Homo sapiens: one gene and its partners. The protein of the gene in region 1 purifies or fractionates together with the protein of each later gene. This does not show direct contact. Each region holds a gene or a part of one and is shown in the gene's direction. Other genes may lie near its edges.

Region 1 (3,238 bases):
GGGGGGAAGGGGAGGGAGAGCAATAGGGCAAATACCCGATGCATACGGGGCTTAAAACCTAGATGATGGGTTGATAGGTGCAGCAAACCACCATGGCACATGTGTACCTATGTAACAAACCTGCACGTTCTGCACATGTATCCCAGAACTTAAGGTAAAAAAAAAAAAAAAAAAAAAAAAGAAACCTAAGTTAGTAAGAAATTAAGTCTCTACCCAGGGATATGTAGTAGAAAGTGGTAGGATTGGGGTTTGAACCCAGGCAGTTTTGACTCTATCATGTAGCTTCTTAATGATTATATTATACTGTCCCCCAAGTTGTATACTAATTGCTTCTATTATGTTTCCAGTTTTATATAGACCCATATAAGCTGCTGCCACTGCAGAGGTTTTTACCTCGACCTCCAGGTGAGAAAGGACCTCCAAGAGGTGGTGGCAGGGGAGGCCGAGGAGGAGGAAGAGGAGGAGGTGGCAGAGGTGGTGGCAGAGGCGGTAAGTTACTTGGGGAAAATTTCTAATGAAATTAACTGTGACTTTCACAGCTAATTCATACAATACAATTTAGCTTTGTACATAGCAAACCTCCCTTATGGTTCTTTTTATTAAAGCTGCTTTCCAATATTGGCAGATTGTCCATAATAATAATGCTTCATTTCAACAACTTACTTAAAAAGAAGAAAATCTACTAAAGTATACTTTTGAGGGACTTCATTTCTTTGGGTTATTCATGTTTTCTTGGACATTTTAATAAACCGTAAGATTATCTTAATTTTAATTCCTTAGTTAATATTATTGAGTGTAGACTGCATGCTGAAAGCTGGTCATACATTCTTTTAATTTCCATGTATATATTTTTAATACTCAGCGAAACCTTTTGAGATAGATGATATCCTTATTTTATGAATGAGGAAACGGAGACTTACAGAAATTAATTTGCCCCAATCAAACAATTGGCAGACCCAAGAATTAAAATGCATATCTTCTGATGTCATGTCAAGAACTATTACTAATAAATTCATTACTGTGATCTCACTGTTGTGATGTATGCCTTTCCCCCAAGGTTTTGGGGTATTTTGATGTATGCCTGTTTTGATGTATGCCTTTCCCCTAAGGTTTGGGCACATTCATCATTATGGACAGCTAGGTGATGAGCAGGGCTCTGGGGAGTGGGGCTGCCATGCCCTGTGAGTAGGAGAAGGGCGAGTGATGGGGTGATGGGCAGAGCCAAAGTGGAAAGGGAGAGGAGCTGAAAGTTGGGCTTGGACAGCTTTTGTTACTGGATCAGAAAAAGAGAAGGAACGCCTCACTTTTGGCGTTTCTCAATTTAATCACCATTTCACTCCATAAAGGTATTTTTTTGTGTCCATATAGGTAGGAAAATTCTCAGGGGTACCTTCTTGAGAATTTGATGAACAGAGATTCCCCTATTCTCATGTTATGTTGAGTATCATTTAACATTTCAAAAAATTCACAGCTGTCTTATTTTTTTAAAATCTTACTTATGTAGCTCAGTTAATCTTAACTATCATATTTATTATCTTACCCCCAGAGCAAAAGCACCCATATCTGCCACCCTTTGTTGTTAGGATAAAAAGCCACAGTTCCATCAAACTATCCTTAGTTGAATCAAAAAAGTATTTATCATAAGCAAGAGCTAAGGCAATAGTCATACATTTAACAAGACTGAATCATACTTTAACAAGTTTTTCTAATTTATTGAAATGGAATAATCTGGGGTTTTAGCCTGTTGCCCAGTTGGTAAACTACTACAGTTTCTCCATTTTTATCTTCTAAAATTTTTTCCCTGATAAAATATGTGAATCTATATTTATTCATTATAATTATAGTTATTGTATTGATCTTTTTAGGCTTATCAATATAAGAGGTTATACAGTTAATAACTTAATGATTATTATATTCTATTGTTATTTAAATACTTTGCGTTATTATTTAATAAATGTTTTTTAGGTGGTTTTAGAGGTGGAAGAGGAGGTGGAGGTGGGGGCTTCAGAGGAGGAAGAGGTGGTGGTTTCAGAGGTGAGTATTTTAAAAAGTCTTTAAATTGCTTAATGTTTAAAATTGATATTATCTGGCATTTTCTGTTTTTACTTAAGTTTAATTTTCTCTGCCAGCAAGTATATAGAACACCATGGTGTTCTTTGCTTAGCCTAATTTGTGGTTTCATTTTATATCACTTTTTTTTTGCCTTTTCTTTTCAATTTTTTCACCTAATTCTAATTTGTTTTGCTTTATTATTAATTTGAAAAATAAAGGTGTAATATGAATGACAGTTAAATTTGGTAAAGTATGTTTGCTAAACATTATTGGAACTAATGCTGATTTTAAACTTGAGATTTAGGTTATAATACTATTAAAAATCCATTTTCTGTGCCCTTAATACTTTAATTTTCTCTTAATCAGGGAGAGGACATTAAGTGAAACAGTTGACAGACATCACCAGTTGACTTCTGCATTAACCTGCATGATCTGTTTCTACTATGGATTGGAAACTTGTTTCTTGAACAAGTCTTGAAGATCTTGGTCATTTTATGACAATGGATCTAAAATGTCAGCATCATGCAAAGTGCAACGGAATAGTGAATTTTGCTCTAAAAGAGCATGAACAAGTCTTTCTAATGTTTTGTACAGTGCCTGGCACTCTGTGGGTGCTCAATAAATGGATAGGAGTTTTCATTTGAAGCATATTTGAATTTTTAAAATAAAGTGTTTTATTCCCTTAAGTTATTTAGAGTGTGTTTATTAAATGAAACCCATTTTTTAAAGTAGAAAGGAATAACTAAAGCTTAAACCCAGTGAATTGCAGATCGAAAAAAGGATTTGTTTATTTATATTACTGATCTTTTAAAAAATAGACTACTGTAGCAGTACTTTAAGATAATTTACAAGTTGACACTGCCTTTCAAAACCCTGGCCTTTTATGTATGAGAAGATAGCTTTGTATTTGCCTTTTGTATTTTAATACATAAATCAGTTAAGCTGTTTCTCTAATTGCAATTAATAATTGATTTAAAAATTTTCCATATTAGTAATGTATTAAAGATGCAGTAGCTCTGTTGAAGTGAAAACTATAGCAAGAAATTTCTAAAGTTAATTTTTCTCATCCAACATAAATGGAATATTAGAAGTTTTACTGAATGTTATTTTATTTTTACTTTTTTAAAGGGACTCTAAAAGTTTAAGGTGTTATTTACTACACGTAAATATTCGTGTAGTATACTAC
Region 2 (3,500 bases), on another chromosome or scaffold:
ATACCGTTCAAGATACAACACCTTTTTTCCTAGAAATCAGTTTGATAAGCAAAAGCAAATTACTCAAGTAAATGTCTTGTATTACCCATGTCCAGTGCAAAAAAAAAAAAAAAAAGAAAAAGAGGAGAGGAAACTGAACATACTTTACTAAAGAGTTCTATGTATTTTTTTTTTTTTTTTTTTTTGAGATGGTGTCTCGCTCTGTCACCTAGGCTGGAGTGCAGTGGCGCGATCTTGGCTCACTGCAAGCTCCGCCTCCTGGGTTCACGCCATTCTCCTGCCTCAGCTTCCCGAGTAGCTGGGACTACAGGCACCTGCCACCACGCCCGGCTAATTTTGTAGTTTTAGTAGAGACGGGGTTTCATCGTGTTAGCCAGGGTGGTCTCGATCTCCTGGCCTTGTGGTCCGCCCGTCGGCCTCCCAAAGTGCTGAGATCACAGGCATGAGCCACCGCACCCGGCCTTTTTTTTTTTTTTTTTTGAGATGGAGTCTCACTCTATTGTCCAGGCTGGAGTGCAGTAGCGCCATCTTGACTCACTGCAGCCTCTGCCTCCCAGGATCGAGCTATTCTCTGCTTCACCCTCTTGAGTAGCTGGGATTACAGGTGCCTGTCACCACACCTGGCTAATTTTTGTATTTTTAGTAGAGACGGGGTTTTGCCATGTTGGCCAGGGAGGTCTCGAACTCCTGACCTCAGGTGATCCACCCGCCTGGAGTCCCAAAGTGCTTTACAGGCATGAGCCACCACTCCCGGTGAGTTCTACATTTTTGATCTGTGCCATCTTGAATAGCCTTAGCTGACAAAAACATGAAATGTAAATTATATTAAAATGTCCTTTATGTGCATCTGTATTTTGTTAATGCCATGTGTTTTAGATTCTTATTTGTAATCTTTAGGACTTTATTTAAAAGCTTTCTTGTGACATTTGTGATGTATTGATAGTGTGAGAAATTACAAAAACTAAGATTCTGTTTTATTGTAAAGTATACAAAAAGAATCTTATTTCATGGTTTTATGTTTCTCTTCTACTTGGCTTCACAATGATCCGAACTTGCAGCTTTTAAATGAGAAAAGCTTCCTATTTCATTGTGTACTTTTGTTTGTGTAACATTTTGTGGAAATGACTGCTTATTAAAATGACACTTCACAGACTTGGACTAACGTTCATGATATCATGGTGTCTTTTGGAAGAAGGGTGTTGTGTTACCCACTCTATCGCCATTTCAAGCTGGTGATGAAGGCCTACAGGGACACTATAAAGATATTGCAACTGGGTAAGATATTACTGTACTTGCAAATTTGGGAGGGAAAAAGTTGTAAGTTTTTAGTCTGTGAAGATATAATAATGATTTTTGCTTTTTTACTGTATATAAATAAGTAATGAAAAATGAATCCAACCACTTTTAAAGTATAGAATTCCTGTGTATAAGACATATGTAGATAAGTAATTGCATAGAGGCATAATAAAGACTCTTTTCCGAGAGGAGTAAGGAAGGTAAACAGAGAAGGCACACATAGTATTGCAAACCGTTTTACATTATAATAGCTGCATCATTCAGTATTTCTTGGCTGCCTATAATCTTCTAGGCTCTATGGTGGGACTGTGGGTCTAATAATAAAGAAGGCAGAAAAGTTCCCTGCTCTGTTGAAGTTTACAGTTTTGTCAGACAGATGATGGGTAAGTTAGCAATTCCAAAGAGAGTGAAAAGTACTCTGCTGGGAGAAGTCCAGGGATCGTTTAGGAGGGGACATGTAACCTAGATTCGGCATGTCAAGAAAGATTTTCCAACAAAAAGCTCAGCTACTCTGAGCACTTTTGACTTGCTAAATTCAACCTGAAAAGACAAACACTCGTTAGCTTTAAGGATGTGGAAAATTCTGGGCTCTGAAACAAATTCCAAAGTGCCCATAGTATCATCATTAGAATAAGTATATAATTTCCAAGATAATGACTTTGAAGGGGGCAACATCCATTTGTATGTATTAGTTCTGGCACATTTATTTAAAAGTCACTTTTAGTACTTTATGGTCATTTCTTATATTCTCCCCCTGGGGAGACTCATCATTCCTTTGCCCTTAGATAAAAGTGTTTCTGGGAGCTTGGTTTTCAGACTTCAGAATAAGAAGGGGAAAGAAAGGAAGTTCTTCCTTCTACCTCCAGGTGACTTCACTGGCCTAAAGAAGAGAATCACATCTCAAATGTTTTGTCTCACCTGGAAGTGTACTTCGCTTTCTGTGTAACCTGTAGTCTTCTTGCCCTGGTGGTGGGGATGGGGGAAGAAAATCATGTTTGAAATAGATTATTTTAAAGTAGACAGTAATTGTAAAAATGAATCATGGTTAGATGAAAGATGCCTTTTTATTCATCCAGTTGGTTTAGACTAGCTGTATTTTATTTTGAAGGATTGTTGATTATAGGATGAAAGAGCTATCATTGAGAAATCTATCTTCTTTAACTTAACAGTGGGAAACAAACTGCTTTGTTTTTTCATGTGTTATTTCTTCTTGCCTTCCATCTAAGATATTTTTTGAATTGCTAAAAGTACCTTGGAAAATCAATCTACTATAAATGACTGTGTGAGCCTCAGTTACACGTCACAATTCATTTCTTTTTTAAGTCATGCTAGATTATCTGGGCATTATTCATGGACTTAAACCAGTGAGAATGCAGTTTGCGATTATCCTGTTATATCATGGCTTCCAGATGGAGAATTGGCAAAACCTCCACATGCCTGTTTGCACACACACTCACACACTCTCACTCTCACTCACATATACAGACTATTGCTTGTTACTTTTTATTCTGGGAAGTAATCTAGTTCTTTTGACTTTCATTGGAAAAGTAATCAGTACTATGATTGCATAACCAAAAATAAATTCGATTGCCTTGACTTACACAGGAATCAATTACCCAGTTTTAGTAGGTCAGAATTGAAATTGAGACTTAATTTTTATTCATTATCACTCTGACAAGAAATAGTTTTATCAGCTGTGTTATGATAGTAACATAAAACTTGAAGTAACACACTGGAGGCCTCTGCTAAAAATGAACCTGAACCCTCTATGTACCATGTACAGTGTGTTCTGTGACTAATTTGGGTTGTGGCTAGTTAGTGCTAAAACTGAGGGCTGGGTTGTCTAGAATTTGTGCCAGAAGCTGTAGAGATGACATGTTCTGGATGAGAATCGTCACCTGTCTTTGTACAGGTGGATGGCACGGGGATGCCATTATTGCCGCTGAAGAGGCTCATTTGTTTGAACACCCCATAATTTAAATAAAGGTAGCTCTGGTTTGGCATTTAGTGTTTTCCAAGAATGAATTCATGCCTACTTATAATTCAAAATGCAGTCAGTGTTCACACTTTTTATTATAAAGGTCAGTATAGTGTTCCATAGTTGAAAGTAATGAATAACCCTGGCTCCAAAGAAGGATTGATCTTAAATGGAATGAGCTTTCAAAACCAATGTAGGAATGCTTCAGAAACTACAGAATATTTCA
Region 3 (3,500 bases), on another chromosome or scaffold:
CCATTGTCATCATGGCCCATTCTCAATGAGCTGTTGGGTACACCTCCCAGACGGGGTGGTGGCCGGGGAAGAGGGGCTCCTCACTTCCCAGTAGGGGCGGCCGGGCAGAGGCACCCCTCACCTCCCAGACGGGGTGGCTGGCCGGGCGGGGGCTGACCCCCCCACCTCCCTCCCGGACGGGGCGGCTGGCCGGTGGGGGCTGACCCCCCGCCTCCCTCCCAGACGGGGCGGCTGGCCTGGCAGGGGCTGACCCCCCGCCTCCCTCCCGGACAGGGCGGCTGCCGGGCGGAGACGCTCCTCACTTCCCAGACGGGGTGGCTGCCGGGCGGAGGGGCTCCTCACTTCCCAGATGGGGCGGCTGCCGGGCGGAGGGGCTCCTCACTTCTCAGACGGGGTGGCTGCCGGGTGGAGGGTCTCCTCACTTCTCAGATGGGGCGGCCGGGCAGAGACGCTCCTCACCTCCCAGACGGGGTCGCGGCCGGGCAGAGGCGCTCCTCACACCCCAGACGGGGCGGCAGGGCAGAGGCGCTCCCCACATCTCAGACGATGGGCGGCCGGGCAGAGATGCTCCTCACTTCCTAGATGGGATGGCGGCCGGGAAGAGGCGCTCCTCACTTCCTAGATAGGATGACGGCCGGGCAGAGACGCTCCTCACTTTCCAGACTGGGCAGCCAGGCAGAGGGGCTCCTCACATCCCAGACGATGGGCGGCCAGGCAGAGACGCTCCTCACTTCCCAGAGAGGGTGAAAATGCCATCTTCATTATCTTGCAGCTTATAGGAAAAAGAAGCCCAAAGATGTTATGTAACTGCAGAATTATTATCCAATATAAATTTTAATAAAAAGGGGCATTCCCAAGCATACTGCTATGACAGTGCAAATTTATATTGCAACTGATTTTTATTCTACATGAGACCCTAAGTCTTTCATTTAATATTCAGAAATTTAAGTCTGATTTTGATATCCTGTGGTCTAACAGCATCTTTTAAAAGAGAGTGACCATAAGATCTGAACACGAGTTAGAAATGAATTGTTTCTGTGTATTAAGTGAATTTTTTTTTCATTAGGTGATGATGGAGTCAATGTAGAAGAAGATGGGAAAACAAAGAAAAGTCAGAAGGATGATGAAGAACAAATTGCTAAATACAGGCAGCTCTTGCAGGTTATTCAAGAAAAAGAAAAGAAAGGCAAAGAAAATGATATGGAAATGGAAATTAAATGGGTTCCAGGTAAGAATTAGATACTAAATGTTTTCTCTTTTTCGAATTTCAGCATGTTGAGTACCTTTTAAATATGAAGGAGCCGGAAATGTTTTGGTGAGGACCTTAACATCATATTTGCATACACCATTTAACTAACTTAATGACTAGCATTTTAGACTCTTACCAACTTATTTTTAATTGGTTTCTTTGATTTACTAACTATAAATTTTTCCTGTCCATTTATCAGAGTAGCTTTTCCTAGGTTTGAGCCTGTATTCTCAAGATATAGAAACTTGAATCCAGGCACCACGTGTTCTAAAGTTATTACACTTCTTTTGAATGTTTAATTCTTAAGTGACCTTTTCTTCCATAACCCCCACTAGTCCTTAATTCATGAGGTTTCACTAACACAAAATATGTATTACATAGTCTTCGATTTTCAATCTTGCTGCGAATAGTCAAAGAAATATAGCATAGTAGAGTAAAATAGTACTAGTACAAAACTAATTAAAATCATGTCAAAGCTAAACAAAGATAAAAGCTGGGATAAATGGGATCATTCTGTAGTAAACAGCAGTTGCCCCTTTTTCATGGTTTCACTTTCTGCAGTTTGTTACCCAGTATAGTACAATAAGATACTTTGAAAGAGAAAGAGGAAGAGAGATTATATTCATATAACTTTTATTACAGTGTAATTATTCTGTTTTATTGTTGGTGTTGTTAATCTCTTACTGTGCCTAATTTATAAGTTAAACTTTATCATAGCTGTAGATGTATAGGAAAAAACATACTAGCTATAGGATTCAGTACTATCCATGATTTCAGACATTCACTGTGGGTCCTGGAATGTATCCTCCTCAGATAATGGGGGACTACTGTACACATTTTTTTCAACATTGTTGGGCAAATCATCAGGGACTTCTGCAGTCAATACTGTTTTTATAGATTACTGCTGTTTATATTATATATGTGTATAACTTTTAAAACCAGATATATTTTTGGATAAGGGTTCAGTTCTTTAGCCTATATTAGTCACTAGGAGAAAGAGTACTAACCAGTTGTAGGAATACCATTGCTTAAAACTTAAAGGTGTTCTGTTACCAATTCCATTTTTATAAGTAGCGTGCTTTTGTATTGGGAATAAAACATATGTTTGCGTGGGTTTTTATTTGGGAAAAAAATAGGGTATTTTGATATTTGAGGATTGACTGGCTATTGTAGTAAATTTGCTAGGATGGACACTGGCTATTGTAGTAAATTTGCTAGGATGGTCTGCTGCATATTCCTACAGGAATGAAGTGCTGTGTTGCAACCCATTTGTTTTAAATGTTTGGCTTTTGCAGGAAGTGGTGGTAAGAACGAATGAAGTTTACTGGTGTATCATATGACAAGTGGTTGGGAGAACTCAATTGATTTGGCCTGGAGAGGAAAAGTCTAAAAAGTGATTTTAACAGCTATTTTTAAATACTTGCAGAATATGTAAATGAAGACTTAATCTCTTTTATTACCTCACAGGTTAGCAGTACTGCCAGTGGATAAAAGTTGAAGGAAGGTAGATTTTAACGTAATAATATAAAGAGGAATTCTCTATATTATTAGAATTGTCTCGCAGAAGAACTGAAGGCTGCTTTAAGGGGTTGAGCTCTCTGTGTCAGTAAATCTCCACCATAAGGCTACATAATTATGCTACTCAGAGATGTCTGTTAAGAAATATTTTACTTGAGTCCCTTGACTTTATGATTCTAAGAAATGTTGAATTCTGTCTTTTAAGTTGAATATATTGTAGTTTAATTCTAATCTTAGAATGAGCTTATTGAATATATTTTAATATGAACATTTTTAAATTGAAGTGTTCAGTTGTCTGAGAAAGCAGATCTAAAATAAACTGGATTGAGGTGTTTTATAGCAAATATTTCAGAAATATATAATGCCAGTTGTAAGGTACAGATATATGATACAGGTTCCCACACTAAGTGGACCACATCTAGATTGTGTCTTTATTAACATAATTATGAAACCGGGCACAGGGGCTCACACCTGTAATCCCAACACTTTCAGAGGCCAAGGTGGGTGGATTACTTGAGCCTCAGATGTTCGAGACCAGCCCGAGTAGCATGGCAAAACTGTTCCATCTCTACAAAAAAATACAAAAATTAGCTGGGCATGGTGGCACACGCCTGTAGTCCCAGCTACTGGGGAGGCTGAGGTGGTAGGATCACCTGAGCTCAAGGAGGTTGAGGCTGCAGTTAGCTGTGATCATGCCACTGCACTCCAGCCTAGGCAACAGAATGAGACCCTG
Region 4 (3,151 bases), on another chromosome or scaffold:
CCACTGTGGAAAACAGTACAGCAGCACTTCCTCCAGAAATGTAAAATAGAATGACCATAGGATCCAGCACTTCCACATCTGGGTATACACCCAAAAGAATTGAAAGCAGGGTCTGAAATATGTGCACACCTGTGTTCATGGCAGCATTATTCATAATACCCAAAACACGGGAGCAACCTAAGTATCCACTGACAGATGAATGGATAAGCAAAATGTGCCATATCCATACAATGGAATGTCATTCAGCCTTACGAAGGGAGGACATCATGCTGAGTGAAATAAGCCAGTCACAAAAAGACATATACTATATGACTCCACTTATATGAACTACTCAAAATAGTTAAATTTATAGAGACAGAAAGTAGAATAATGTTGACAGGGGCTAAGGGAAGCAGAATGAGAAGTTAATGTTTAATGGGTATAAGATTTCAGTTTTACAAAATGACAAGAGTTTTTGGAAATGGGTGGTGGGGATGTTTTTCACCACATTATGAATTTATTTAAAATCACTGAACTATGTATTTTTAAATGGCTAAGATGGTAAGCTTTATGTTATATACATTTTACCACAGTAAAATAACAATGGGAGAAAAATGTTACCCAGGGCAAGACATACAATTTACACCTTTTATTTTTTTCACTAGTAAAGAAGAAAAAAATGAGCCACTTTCTCTGCCTGAGTTAACCAAAAGGCTTACCGAGGCAAATCAGAGAATGGCGAAATTTCCTGAGAGCATTAAGGTAAGAGTTAAAGCAGTTCATTTGGTAAAGCATCACTTTTTGTGTTATCACTTGACTATACCACATTCTTATAAAGGTCAGCTACCTCTCTGTTCAGTTTCTAAAATCTCTACCCATTCATATGTGCTTAAGAATTTAGAATCCAGGCTGGGCGTGGTGGCTCACGCCTGTAATCCCAGCGCTTTGGGAGGCTGAGGCTGGCGGATCATGAGGTCAGGAGATCAAGACCATCCTGGCTAACATGGTGAAACCCCGTCTCTACTAAAAATACAAAATATTAGCCGGGCGTGGGGGCAGGTGCCTGTAGTCCCAGTTACTCGGGAGGCTGAGGCAGGAGAATAGCATGGAGGCAGGAGAATGGCGTGAACTCAGGAGGCGGAGCTTGCAGTGAGCCAAGATCACGCCACTGCACTCCAGCCTGGGCAACAGAGCGAGACTCTGTCTCAAAAAAAAAACAAAACAAAAAAAAAGAATTTAGAATCCAATTACTTTGGTTAGCTAGAATGTTTTGTGAGACTAGAATTATCGATCACACAAGTAATTTTATACCTCAATCTTCAGAGAAACCAAATAGATTTAATAGGTAAGAAGTAAAATTTAAATTGGTGCCATGTATTAGATAGCTTACAGATGGACAGGTCTTTTTGGCTGTGGGCCCAAATATTAATAGAAGCACCATTTTTAAGGGTGGATTTGCATAGGGCTGTAGAAAGAGATTGTGCCATTGAGAAGGACATCGCAGTAGCCATCCTAGTTTTGAGTGTCATTTCTCCTTGGAGTAACTGTTGAAGAGAAAGACAGGACATTGCCTTAGGAGACAGCTGGCTCAGCTGTGTCCAAGAAGTGTCTATAGATGAACCTGAGTGACTGGTGCCTTCTGTGCAGGTGTTTGTGGCTCTTCTGCAAATGCTTCCTTATTCATCCTCATGTCATCGTCTTTCAGGCCTGGCCCTTCCCAGATGTGCTGGAGTGCTGCCTCGTCCTGCTTCTCATCAGGTCCCACTTTCCTGGCTGTCTGGCCCAGGAAATGCAGCAGCAGGCCCAAGAGCTCCTTCAGAAATACGGCAACACGAAAACTTACAGAAGACACTGCCAGACCTTCTGTATGTGAATTTTCACACACCTTGAAGAAACTGCCAAATTGAAAATGTTTGACATCTTTCACCTCTGCAGTTATGCCTCACCAGACATTCACTCTGGTCCCTAGATGTTTTTGCAGTAATCCAAAAGAATACAAACAAGGATTAAGTTTGAATCAACCCTGCCTACCCATAGACAACGGTGGATCTGACTTTAGACTCAATTGTGGTCTCCTACTGGAGGGAAGATCATGAAAAGCCCACAGTAGTTATTCAGAACTAACACCTGCAGAGTGTTGGTCATCTCTACAGCCTTAGGCAGGTTTCACCCAAAGAGGAGAAACTTCTGTCGTCACCCAAAGTGTTACATGCTTAAAACACAAGCTACCTTTGTAAATACTTCATCTGATCAGAAGTGTGTCATGCTTGTTTGAGATGGAGTTGCTGCATTTTAGGACTATTGATACCTTTTTTTAATTGTTTTTATAATATTTAATTTGAAAGAGGAGACCCTTCTCTCTCTACTCTTTCATAGACTGAAGTTTGAATATGAAATAGGCCTTAACCATCATGTTGACTCTCCTGTCAGAATTTTAGGTTGGAAATTTGGTTTTATTCTTTCATGTAATTGCTTATTTGAACAGATCACTTACTAAAGCTTTAGAAGAAGTGATTCAAATGTGTGTTTTCCCTTCAGTTTTATAACAAATGGATTGATGGCAGTCAAATAGCTCAGGAATAAATTACTGTTTCAATGGTTCTTAAACTTTCTTGGATCATAGGATCCTTTTGAGAATCAGATTAAAGCCAAAGATACTCTTTGGAGAAAAATGCATATTCCTAATTTTGCATAGATGACCTTTGGATTATTGGACTCTGACTATTGGGACCCTAAATACTATTTAATTATAAATCTTTTTTTTCTCCTCCTTGGTTATTTAAACAGTTGAACAGTGTCAGGAACAGATGTTTCTGTAATGTCACAGTTGCTAGCATGGGAAAATCAGAGTCTGGCATGGGTGTAGGAAGGAACACTCCTTTCAGATAATTGAACTGTTTTCTCTAGGATTCATTGTGAAGGCTTTTCTGCTCACGTTTGTAGTTTATTTTTCAATTAATTCCTAGGATTGGAGCTGTTGGGACAGTGAGAATGAAATTCATTTACAGGAAGTCCCAGGAAGGAGAAAGTTTGAGGCAGTTTTCAAAGACGTGTATGTGCCTAGCATTAGAGTTTAATAAACTCACAAAGGGAAATACTGTAGAATTTAGATCCTCACAGTTCTTCATACAGTGAAGTGAACTTTAGGAAGACGATGCTTTGTTACCAGGGA
Region 5 (3,500 bases), on another chromosome or scaffold:
AGCAAATGCTGTACCCAGGCATTATGTCTCTCTGGTCTCTGCAATCTGGAACATTCTTCCTCCTTTCCTTGGTTTTCATGACCTTGACATTTTGGAAGATTACAGGGCAGTCATTTTGTAGAATGTTTATGATATGGGATTGTGCAGTGCTTCCCCAGGATCAGACCCTGGGCTCACTGCCTAGGTGAGAAACTCCCAGAGTGATGATGCGTCCTGATTCATGTGGCACATAGGGTCCATCTGTCCCATTGGTGGTGGTGGTGGTAACATTGATCACTTGGTCAAGATGATGTTTGCCAGCTTTTCTGTATACAAAGTTGTTTTTGACTAGGTAGTGGCTCATGCCTATAGTCCCAACAGAGGCTGAAGCAGGAGGATCACTTGAGGCCAGGTGTTTGAGACCAGCCTGGGCAACATAGCAAGACCCCATCTCTACAAAAGGTCCTGCTGGCCTTTACCTGAGATGCCCATCTGCCTTTAACTCGTTAAACAAGAAAAAATTAAAAATAGAAAATTAGCCAGGATTGGTATCAGGTGCCTGTATTCCCAGCTGCTCCAGAGGCTGAGACAGGATGATTGCTTAAGCCCAGGAGTTTGAGACTCCTTATCTCTTAAGGAAAGAAAGGTTACTTTTTGTCCTTTGTTACTAAGTATTTTGTGGAGCGATACTTTGAGACTAAGTAAATATCTTGTACCTCATCACACTCATCTTCTAGTTAGATCACTATGATGGTTGCCCAATGATGACTCTTTAAATCCCATTCTTCCTACTACTGGAAGGAAGAGTTTTCTCTCCATTTATTTAGTTTATGTCACTGTGGATTCATAGATTCAAATCTGATACTTGATAATCTGTTGGTTTCATTATTTATTTTTATCTTTAACTTTCCCACATTTGGCCCAAGGGAGACTCTTCAAGCTGCCTCTTGTGTCCTTCTCACATGTCCTTTCATTTTATGAACACTTCTTTGCTTTCTTACAGAATAAGACATGCCAGGCTTGTTTTGTACTTTGCCTGCTTCACTGTGGAGTCAGCCATTTCCCCACAGAGCCCAGCCGTTTTAGTGAAGACTGGTATTTAGAGACCAAGATCCATGCACTCAGTGTGCCCATTGCTTTGTGGGGTATCACCACTTCTGGCCCTCTCAACAGACAATGCTACACACATGTACATATACCCACTCACCTCATATATCTATATTTACCTCTATATCTGTGTCTGTATCTGCTGAAACCAGGAATTCCCATCATTCGCTCCTGTTACACTCTAGCACTGTGTTCTAGCTTCAGTGAGAAACCTGACTCTACTCCCTGCCCTGCCTGGCCACTATCACTGCCCCTTCCAGACCACCCTCCTTGCAGGAGTGAACTTCAAAAAATGTATATTAACATTGATTTTAAAATTTTGCAATAAAACCTTATCAAAGAAATTAAAATTAGCCAGGCACAGTGGGTCATGCCTGTAATCCCAGCACTTTGGGAGGCAAGGTGGACTAATCACCTGAGGTCAGGAGTTCAAGAGCAGCCTGGCCAACATGGTGAAACCCCATCTCTACTAAAAATACAAAAATTAGGTGTGGTGGCACACACCTGTAGTCCCAGCTACTCAGGAGGCTGAGGCAGGAGAACTGCTTGAACCCAGGAGGCGGAGGTTACAGCGAATGGAGATTGTACCACTGCACTCCAGCCTAGGTGATAGAGTGAGACTCTGTCTCAAAAAAAAAAAAGAAAAAAAGTGCAAATCTTTCCACTTCTAATTTTCCATTTCCTATAAATATTTGAAACAATATGAGGAGAGATACAAGTCCCAGTGTATCTTCCTGGTGAATTGCTTTTAGATGATGTAAGCCCTCTTTCTCATGCACTGTGTCTGATGATAATATTGCTCCAGCAGCTTTCTTTTGGTCAGTTGTTAAGTACATCTTTTTCCATCTCTTTGAACCTTTCAGTGTCCTTGTGTTCCAGATGTGCCTCGAGTTTGAGACCAGCCTGGGCAACAGAGCAAGACCTCATCTCTACAAAAAAAATTAAAAATAGAAAATTAGGCAAGAGTGGTGTCTGGTGTCTGTAGTCCCAGCTGCTCCAGAGGCTGAGGCAGGATGATTGCTTGAGCCCAGGAGTTTGAGGCTGCAGTGAGCGGAGATTGGTACCACTGCACTCTAGCCTGGGCAACAGAGCAAGACTCCATCTCAAAAAAAAATTAAATTATCTTTCTAGAACAGATAGATTAATATGTTTAGTTATTGACATTTTAAGTCAGCTATCTCAGATATAATGGTAAAATGCCAAGTAGAGTGCTGTGTTGGCAAGGATGTAATTTAAGCATTCCCTATTTCATGAGAAAGGGGTTATGTGCCAGATACAAATGTAATCTGTCTGTCTCTTGCATTTCAGGGCACCACCAAAATCAACACTTTCAACTGGTCCAAGGTCCGTAAACTAAGCTTCAAGAGGAAAAGATTTCTTATCAAACTTCATCCAGAGGTTCATGTAAGTATTATTTTCAACTTTTTATTTTTATTTTATTTTATTTATTTATTTATTTATTTTTTTGAGACGGAGTTTCGCTCTTGTTGCCCAGGCTGGAGTGCAATGGCATGATCTCGGCTCACCGCAACCCTCTGCCTCCCGGGTTCAAGCGATTCTCCTGCCTCAGCCTCCCAAGTAGCTGGGATTACAGGCATGCGCCACCACACCTGGCTAATTTTGTATTTTTGTAGAGACAGGGTTTCTCCATGTTGTTCAGGCTGGTCTCGAACTCCTGACCTTAGGTGATCCACCCGCCTTGGCCTCCCAAAGTGCTGGGATTACAGGCTCACAAAGTGCTGGGATTACAGGCGTGAGCCACCATGCCCAGCCTATTTTGACCATTTTTTAACTCATAATTTATTCTGCTAAAACATAATTACTTTGTAAATCATTTCAGCATAATGCACACAAGAACTCAAGGACAGGATTCGGGACTTAGGTCTGGAGGGGCTGAGGGCAGTCTGCCTAGCTGGTCTCACACTTACCTCCCCCAGGAACTTTGTCACTCACGTGTTGCTGGCTCAAAACCCCAGGGTTTCAGCTTCAGCGGGTCTGGGATGAACCCAAGAAGGTGCACATCTGACAAGCTCCTAGGGGTTGCTAAGAACCATGGTTATTGCAGCCTCTTTGTTCTCTAGGTAAGGAAGCTGAAGAACAAAGTGCTCAAAATGATCTGAAGCCCTACAGCAGCTGAGAGCTTCAGAATGAACTGAGGAGTATCCCCAGTGTTCTCTTGTGTCCTTCATTCAGAAATTGATCTTTGAATAGCTCTAATTGAAGAAGCCTTGATTATCAGGGAGTAAATATTCCCTTCTTTACTGACTGCTCATTAATAAAATAATAATTACATATGAATTTACTGAAATGAGTAAAAATGGAAAAAATAAATGCCTGTGCAGTGTATTTGGTAAAATCCAGTACTTCCAGTTATTCAAAGATGTTCCAGTTGCTGCATTTCCGTTGTACAAAAG
Region 6 (3,960 bases), on another chromosome or scaffold:
GCCTTCCCTCAGTTCCTTCAGTGCCACTCAGGCCTGGCTGCGAAGATACAGATGGTATATGCGAATTACATATAAGTAACTATATGCAAAATTATTTTTCCCTGGTGTGTCATTGTGCCAGCGTGTTTGGATTAGAAGTGATTTCCAGGAATCCTTCCCTGCGTCTTCTAGCTTCTGGGGGCTCTTGGCCTTTCTGGACTTTCATGGATCATGACCACATCACTCTAATTTCTGCCTCTGTGTTCCAGCACCTCACCCCCTGTGTGTTGTGTCTTCTCTTCTCTCTGCTGTGAGGACAATTGTCATTGGATTTGGGGCCTATCCAGATATACCAAGATGATCTCATCTCAAATTCTTTTACTTCATTACATCTGCAAAGAGCCTTTTTCCAAATAAGATCAAGTTCACAGGATCTAGGGATTTCTATATGGACCTATCTTTCTTGGGGGCCAACATAACCCCCTACATGGTATAGGTGAAATAAGATTATTTGCAATTGATGAATCCAGGTGATGAATACTTTCAGATTTGTTATATTATGGGCAATTTGAGTGACGCAAAGAGGATAGCATATGCAAATAGGGTCTCTGGATTTGTCAGATAAAATACAGGATACCCACCTAAATGTGAATTTCAGATAAACAATAAATAATATTTCAGTATAATCTGGTTTCATACCGTGTTTGGAACATAGCTATAACTAAAAAATTGTTGATTGTTTGCCTGAAATTCACATTTACATGGATGTCCTATATTTTATTTGGCAACCCAGTAAGAAAACGGTGGCATCAGCTTGCCCTTCACAGACATCCTCTCCCAGCTATGCTCACAATAGAGATTTTTCAGTTGCCCTAGTCTTTGCACCCAACTCATGAAAAAAAGCATCTTTAAAAAGCCAGTTTCTGCTGACTTGCAAAAAGAGCAAAATCTCGGTGAAATGTATTGTGTAAACTTTGATTGCCAACCTTGAAAAGGAACACATTAACCAGTGTCTTCTGATAAGCAGATCACTTGCCTCATGTCTTAGAATCCAGTAGGTGGCCCCTTGGCCATGAAATGTGTGGGAGTGGCTTTTCCCTAACTTGACTCTTCTTTCAGTGGGAGAGAACTATTGAGAGGAACAAAGAGCTTATAAATACATTAGGACCTGGAATTCAGTTGTCGAGCCAGGACGGTGACAGCGTTTAACAAAGTAAGTACTGATCTTATAAATTTCTCTACATTGCCTCACACCCTCCTCTCTAGCCTCCTAGAAAAATATGCTAATATGTGTCCTTAGCACAAGGAAAAGTCTGTTTTTACTCATATTGTGCCGTCTTGGTGTGCTTGGGTGACAGTTCAAGAATTGTTTATTTCTTTTCTGTTGGATACATCTTTACAGAATTGTAAAAATGAAGAATTTAGAAAACCAGGGCTTCAGCATTTAATGGTATGGGAAACAATGACATGAAGAGAAAAAAGAAATGGTAGCATTTTAAACAATCTGAGAATAATCAGTGCTGGAAGAAGTGGCAATGTATGCAAAAATTTATTTCTCTGTGTAAGTAGTCAACACACAATTGTAAATTGTGACACTGTAATTCTATATTGGCTGTGAAAATACAAAACTCAGGTTTAGTATAATTAGAATAAATTAGTTTGAATGTCAGGAGAACTAGATTCTAGTTGAGCCTTTGCCACTAATTAGCTCAAAGACAAGTCATATTCTGTCTCTGGAGTTCTACCAACTCATGGCCAATATAGAGGATAGCTAAGAAAGAGGCTCCGACTGTTGCTGCCCTTTAAACTGTGTAATTCTTTGAATGGAGATCTGTCCTGCTCACTCTAGGATGTTTCTAGGCATCCCTGGCCTCTACCTATCTGATTTGTAACCCCCTTTCCCTCCCCGCAGATATGACAACCCAAAATGTCTCTAGACCTTGCTCAATGTCCTCTGGAGCAGAGGAGCAAAATCCCCCTGGTTGAGAACCATGGGACTACATGACCTCATGGGGCTAAGCAAGGCTGTGTTACTGATGTGCCCCACTGCTTGGACATTCACTGAAAATTTCCTGTTAATCCAGGTGGACTGATTAGTGAATATCAATATCTTCTGTACAGGAGCTAAAAAGGAAAGAGAGAGAGAAACAGAGAGCCATCATATGACAGATTTGATATAAGTCTGGATTCATATAAAATCTTATTCCTACTCGAGTTCTATGAACAAAATATAGAGAACCAGAGAAATGGATACAAGACAGATAATAGATGATGAAGAGACAGATTACAAAGAGATAGATACATAGAACGATTGATAGATAAAATAATACATACATGGATGGGTAGACAGAGATTATAAATAGATACATATACATAGATTGTTGGTCAGTAAAATAATTGATGGATAGATAGATCAAAGAAAGAGGATCCATGGGCTACTCAATATGTCCAGAGACTCACCCATCTTCCAAGCACTGGGACAAGAGCAAACACCCATTGCTGTGTTCCTACTATGAATTTTTTGTACATTATCTCATTTAACTTTCTCAACAACCCTCAAAAGTAGAAATAACTATCTCTATTCTAAGAAGAGAAAATTGAGGCTCAGAGATTAAACAACCTACTGCATTTATGAATCTCATAATGGAAGGAGTCATAGTTTATCTCATTCTCCCTTCTCTCTGATAAGAAACAGTGTCATTGGGACCACCTCAGAGATGTAAATGTAACTCCTTTAATTTACTCCTGGAATTATGAGAGCTTATATTCCTTTCAAAACAAGCCCATTTTTTAATTGATGTAAGTTAATTATTGATGTAAAGTAATTATACTAGTCCTCAACTCACTCTGATTTTTAGGTTGTCAAATCAGAGAAAGTCACAGTTTTATCAATTTTTTCTTCCAAGCAAGCCCCTGAAAAGTTGCTAACAGGAGGAACTCAGGAATTAGATGTTCCCCTCTCGTCCTCTCCTTCCAACATTTATTTGGCTAATATATATTTAATAGGAAAATACAAAACAACTTCTCAGACAGGAGCTGAGAGCCAGGTTATGAGGTGGAGTGGAAAAGCTCTGGACCTGCAATCAGAAGTTAAGGCTGACCCAACACTCACCAAGTGTGCAGCATGAGACAGGTGCTTTAGCTCTCTGAAACTCAGTGTGCCCATCTTTAATTTGGATAATAGGAGCCATTTCCCAGGGTTGTTGCGGAAGGTAAACACACTCCCTAGATATTGACTATGAATGAGGAGCATGTGTGTGTGACCCATGGCAAATCCTTGAGCTCTCTGGTTCTCATTTTCTGTTGACCCAACAAAGCTCAATGGTAACCTATGTCTCAGTCTTAGCCTGACCCTTGGAAACCTCACATTGAGAAAGTGATATGCTAGTTATCAGCAGGAGTGTTGTGATAAAATATTATGTAAGATAAAATTTCACTTCCTTTTGAAACATGATCCTCAATCAATGGCTAAGAGAGTTTAGTTTGGGGATTGGAATTACAACACTGTGAACTCTAGTCGATAACAATTAAACAAGCATACCCCATGCTTTCATCTGAACTTCACTCTCCCTTTCACTCTGTCAAATTATGCTATTTCCATTTCCCAAGTTACTTTAAATTGCTCCTGGAGTTATCATAGAAAGTACAATGTCAAAATATCTCATGACAAAACAGGTGAGTTGATTCAGTATGATTTCAAAGAATTCTTTACTTTCCAAAGGTTAATTATTGACTCCCATATTTTAAAATGAGACATTTAAAAGATTTTGATGCCTAATTTTAGTCATACATACCTTTTTAGAAATACATTAGTTGAGGCCGGGTGCAGTGGCTCACTCCTGTAATCCCAGCACTTCGGGAGGCTGAGGCGAGTGGATCACCTGAGGTCAGGCGTTCCAGACCAGACTGTCCAACATGCTGAAACCCTGTCTCCACTAAAAATACAAAATTATCCGGGTGTGGTGGCACATGCCTGTAATC
Region 7 (3,500 bases), on another chromosome or scaffold:
TCCTGGACGGGATTAGAGAATACTAGAGAAAGGATAAAAGGCTGGTTTCTGCAGGCAGAATATGCTTAGGAAAAATGGCATTGTGATTTTCCCAGAGGATAAGAGAAATTCTGTGGATTTGTAAGTACTGTACTTGCCTGATTTTTTTTTTTGAGATGGAGTTTTGCTCTTGTTTCCCAGGCTGGAGTGCAATGGCGCAATCTCGGCTCACTGAAACCTCTGCCTCCCAGGTTCAAGCGATTCTCCTGCCTCAGCCTCCCCAGTAGCTGGGATTACAGGCATTTGCCGCCATGCCCAACTAATTTTCTGTTTTTAGTAGAGACGGGGTTTCTCCATGTTGGTCAGGCTGGTCTTGAACTCCTGACCTCAGGTGATTTGCCCGCTTCGGCCTCTCAAAGTGCTGGGATTACAGGCGTGAGTCACAGAGCCTGGCCTTGCCTGATGTTTTGATAGCATGGTGGACTGGACATTTTAAAGAAGCCCTTTGTAACTGGCCTTGCTTATTGCAGATAACTGCTTAGTGTTTTTGAGAAATGCACTTTCCTCACCAGCTGAAGGTGCTACAGATAAGAGGGGCAGGTATAGTCCTGTAATGCAGGTGCTAAAGTCTTTCTACTTTGGAAGGACAGGCATTCCCTGTATTGGTTACCGTTTGCCTGGGAAGGGAGGCTGTGGGGTTTTAGGCTCTCGTGGCAGTCTCTCTCCTGTTGTTTGGTGCTTTTGATTGAAAGGAGCCTCTCCAAGCCTGGCTATTGAATGGGAAGCAGCGGATCAACTTCTTTTCTTGTCTTTTAGTGTCAGAGTTTATTCTGTGGTGGTACTGGGTCACAGTCCTTTCTCTCTGTTTCACCCATGGCAACTTAGGTAGGCTGTTACCTCCTTAACCACTTCCACATGGCCAGGAAGATCAGAGCCAAACGGTTTTCATTCAAATTACTTGAAATACTGATTTCTCCAGTCCTGTTCTGCCAAATGCAGCCTTTGTTTTCAATCAAGAAGCCCCCAGAAAACGTGTATTTAAAACTGGCAAAACTTTTTATAGGATGCCCTTGCCCTGGTTTGAATTAGTTAAAAATGTTTGGCCAAGTGGATACTTTGAGCAAAAGTGGATAATGGATACATTACTAAAATATCATGCTCGAAGCTTTTGATACTAATCCGGCGAGACTGAAACTGAGGCATGCTCAGTGCTGCCTGCAAACTGTTAACTCAGATTTTAAGTTTTCTTAGTTTAATGTGGGATGGAAATTATGAACTTCAAGACTTGCAATTAATGTGGGAATTCATCATTTACACTGAATGAATTTCATATGTAAAACTGTCATATTTGTTCACACATTAAAAAAAAGAAGAGCCTCAGGCCACACTAGACTGCCTTTAACTCTCAATTATGATAATAACCTCTGACCACAAGAGTAACTTCACTTTATGTGCAGACTTTTGACGAAATGCTTTGCATAAATTTATTATCAATTAGAAGACTTAAAAATCCAGTATTATGATGACTTTCAGTTTTTGTTCTTGTTCATTCAGGATCTAGTATAGTATCTGAATATAGCAAACCCTTGGTAAATTATTGTGTTCTGTTTTCTTTTTGAAAAAAACTCGAGGCTGGAGTGCAGTGGTGATCATGGCTCATTGCAGCCTTGACCTCTTGGGCTCAAGCAATCCTTTCATCTCAGTCTCCCGAGTAGCTGTGACTACAGACACATGCCATCACGCCCAGCTAATTTTTTCTTTAAAAAAATTTTTCTTAGAGAGTCTCACCGCTATGTTGCCCAGTCTGGTAAATCCTTGTTGAATGAATAATAAATCCAGTTTTTACCATCCCTTCAAATTAGTCTTTAGGGTTTTTAAAGGAAACTTGTTATTAGAATTGATAGATTGCAGTTCTGGCAGTTTGATATTTGATTTTGTTTTCATTTCATTCTAATTTAGCAATTGAATCCTTAAAGCTAAGTCAGATTGTAAAAAGACAGAGGTTCCTTTTCAAAAAAAAAGACAATAAGGTGCGGTGGCTCACGCCTGTAACCCCAGCACTTAGGGAGGCCAAGGCGGGCGAATCATCTGAGGTCAGGAGTTCAAGACCAGCCTGACCAACATGGAGAAACCCCGTCTCTACTAAAAATACAAAATTAGCCAGGCGTGGTGGCGCGTGACTGTAATCCCAGCTACTCGGGAGGCTGAGGCAGGAGAATCGCTGGAACCCGGGAGGCGGAGGTTGTGGTGAGCTGAGATTACGCCATTGTACTCCAGCCTGGGCAACAAAAGTGAAACTCCGTTTCAAGAAAACACAAGACAATAAAAGCATGAAGAAGAAAATAAAACAAACTTGAAATCCTGCCACCTGTTACTGACTCCTACCTTAGCATTTTGGGATCTGTTCTTTTATATAGCCTTCTCATTTCTTAACCTGCGCCAAATTTGACATTCTAATTGTTTTATATGGTACTTGTCTGTAAATTTAATGTGCTCACCATTCCTTTTTGTACTTTGAAGCTTGCTTCTGGGATACATTTTCCTTCTTCCTGAGACACATCTTCTAGAAATTCTGTTAGCATCTGTTGGTGGTAACTTCAGTTTCTGCATGTCTTAGATACCTTTGTTCTTGAATGGTAAGTTTATCTGGGTGTGCAATTCTGTATTGTTCCTGTATTAATCAGCTGTGTTCTGGTCCCATTGCTGTTGCTGTCTAATTATTTGTAACTAGTCTGCCTTTTCTCTCTGGCTACTTTTAAGATGCTTTGGTGTTCTGCAGTCTGGCTATGACATGTCTAGGTATTTCTTCTCTCTTTTACTTTTTTTTTTTTGAGTCAGGTTCTCACTCCCATTGCCCAGGCTGGAGTGCGGTGGCATGATCTCGGCTCACTGCAGCCTCAACTTCCTGGGCTCAAGTGATCCTCTCACGTCGGCCTCCCAAGTAGCTGGAACTACAGGCAAGCACCACCACACTTGGCTCATTTTTTGTATTTTTACTAGAGATGGGGTTTTGCCATGTTGCCCAGGCTAGTCTTGAACTGCTGGGCTCAAGTGATCCTCCTGCCTCGGCCTCCCAAAGTGCTGGGATTACTGGCATGAACTGCCATGCCTGGCTCTCCTTTAGTTTTATTCCTCTCTCTCTTCTTCCCTCTTCTCCTCTCCCTCTCTTCTGTTCCTCTTCCCTGCTCCCTTGCTACTGTCTTTCCCATCCTCTTTATTAGTTTATTTTCTGTTGCTCAGCAGTATTTCCGTGGCTGGATATGCTATGACTTGCGTATCCACTCCCCTTTGGCCATTCAAGTTGTTTTCAGTGTTGGCTATCATGAATACAGCTGCTGTGAACATTTGTGAACAAATCTTTGTGTAGAGATAGGTTTTTATTTTTCCTCCTGGGTCTTTAAGTGTGTGCCTAACTTTATAATAAGCTATTTGTAAGAAAGCGTTGGCACCATTTTATGTTACCATCAGTGATGTATGAGACTTCTAGTTACTCCAATCTTGATCAACACTTGAAACAGTCT

The links.
Region 2: the proteins of GAR1 (region 1) and SHQ1 purify together in Homo sapiens (affinity purification with mass spectrometry; 3 studies listed by BioGRID and IntAct, with this or other methods). This does not show direct contact.
Region 3: the proteins of GAR1 (region 1) and ESF1 purify together in Homo sapiens (affinity purification with mass spectrometry; one large-scale study listed by BioGRID and IntAct). This does not show direct contact.
Region 4: the proteins of GAR1 (region 1) and GEMIN5 purify together in Homo sapiens (affinity purification with mass spectrometry; 4 studies listed by BioGRID and IntAct, with this or other methods). This does not show direct contact.
Region 5: the proteins of GAR1 (region 1) and FARP2 purify together in Homo sapiens (affinity purification with mass spectrometry; one large-scale study listed by BioGRID and IntAct). This does not show direct contact.
Region 6: the proteins of GAR1 (region 1) and GSTA1 purify together in Homo sapiens (affinity purification with mass spectrometry; 2 studies listed by BioGRID and IntAct, with this or other methods). This does not show direct contact.
Region 7: the proteins of GAR1 (region 1) and FARP1 purify together in Homo sapiens (affinity purification with mass spectrometry; 2 studies listed by BioGRID and IntAct, with this or other methods). This does not show direct contact.

The regions. Positions count from the first base shown.
Region 1 is NC_000004.12:109,822,000-109,825,237, forward strand, and holds the end of GAR1 (H/ACA ribonucleoprotein complex subunit 1), read left to right. Parts: intron 1-347; coding exon 348-489; intron 490-1,965; coding exon 1,966-2,034; intron 2,035-2,418; coding exon 2,419-2,432; 3' UTR 2,433-2,738; downstream 2,739-3,238. UniProt on the Homo sapiens protein: Required for ribosome biogenesis and telomere maintenance. Part of the H/ACA small nucleolar ribonucleoprotein (H/ACA snoRNP) complex, which catalyzes pseudouridylation of rRNA.
Region 2 is NC_000003.12:72,810,446-72,813,945, reverse strand, and holds part of SHQ1 (protein SHQ1 homolog), read left to right. Parts: exon of another isoform or gene 1-1,151; coding exon 1,152-1,275; intron 1,276-3,500. UniProt on the Homo sapiens protein: Required for the quantitative accumulation of H/ACA ribonucleoproteins (RNPs), including telomerase, probably through the stabilization of DKC1, from the time of its synthesis until its association with NOP10, NHP2, and NAF1 at the nascent H/ACA RNA.
Region 3 is NC_000020.11:13,757,420-13,760,919, reverse strand, and holds part of ESF1 (ESF1 homolog), read left to right. Parts: intron 1-1,066; coding exon 1,067-1,228; intron 1,229-3,500. UniProt on the Homo sapiens protein: May constitute a novel regulatory system for basal transcription. Negatively regulates ABT1.
Region 4 is NC_000005.10:154,886,911-154,890,061, reverse strand, and holds the end of GEMIN5 (gem-associated protein 5), read left to right. Parts: intron 1-644; coding exon 645-741; intron 742-1,684; coding exon 1,685-1,852; 3' UTR 1,853-2,651; downstream 2,652-3,151. UniProt on the Homo sapiens protein: The SMN complex catalyzes the assembly of small nuclear ribonucleoproteins (snRNPs), the building blocks of the spliceosome, and thereby plays an important role in the splicing of cellular pre-mRNAs.
Region 5 is NC_000002.12:241,429,285-241,432,784, forward strand, and holds part of FARP2 (FERM, ARHGEF and pleckstrin domain-containing protein 2), read left to right. Parts: intron 1-2,394; coding exon 2,395-2,490; intron 2,491-3,500. UniProt on the Homo sapiens protein: Functions as a guanine nucleotide exchange factor that activates RAC1. May have relatively low activity. Plays a role in the response to class 3 semaphorins and remodeling of the actin cytoskeleton.
Region 6 is NC_000006.12:52,801,017-52,804,976, reverse strand, and holds the start of GSTA1 (glutathione S-transferase A1), read left to right. Parts: upstream 1-1,160; 5' UTR 1,161-1,192; intron 1,193-3,960. UniProt on the Homo sapiens protein: Glutathione S-transferase that catalyzes the nucleophilic attack of the sulfur atom of glutathione on the electrophilic groups of a wide range of exogenous and endogenous compounds.
Region 7 is NC_000013.11:98,146,094-98,149,593, forward strand, and holds part of FARP1 (FERM, ARHGEF and pleckstrin domain-containing protein 1), read left to right. Parts: intron 1-3,500. UniProt on the Homo sapiens protein: Functions as a guanine nucleotide exchange factor for RAC1. May play a role in semaphorin signaling.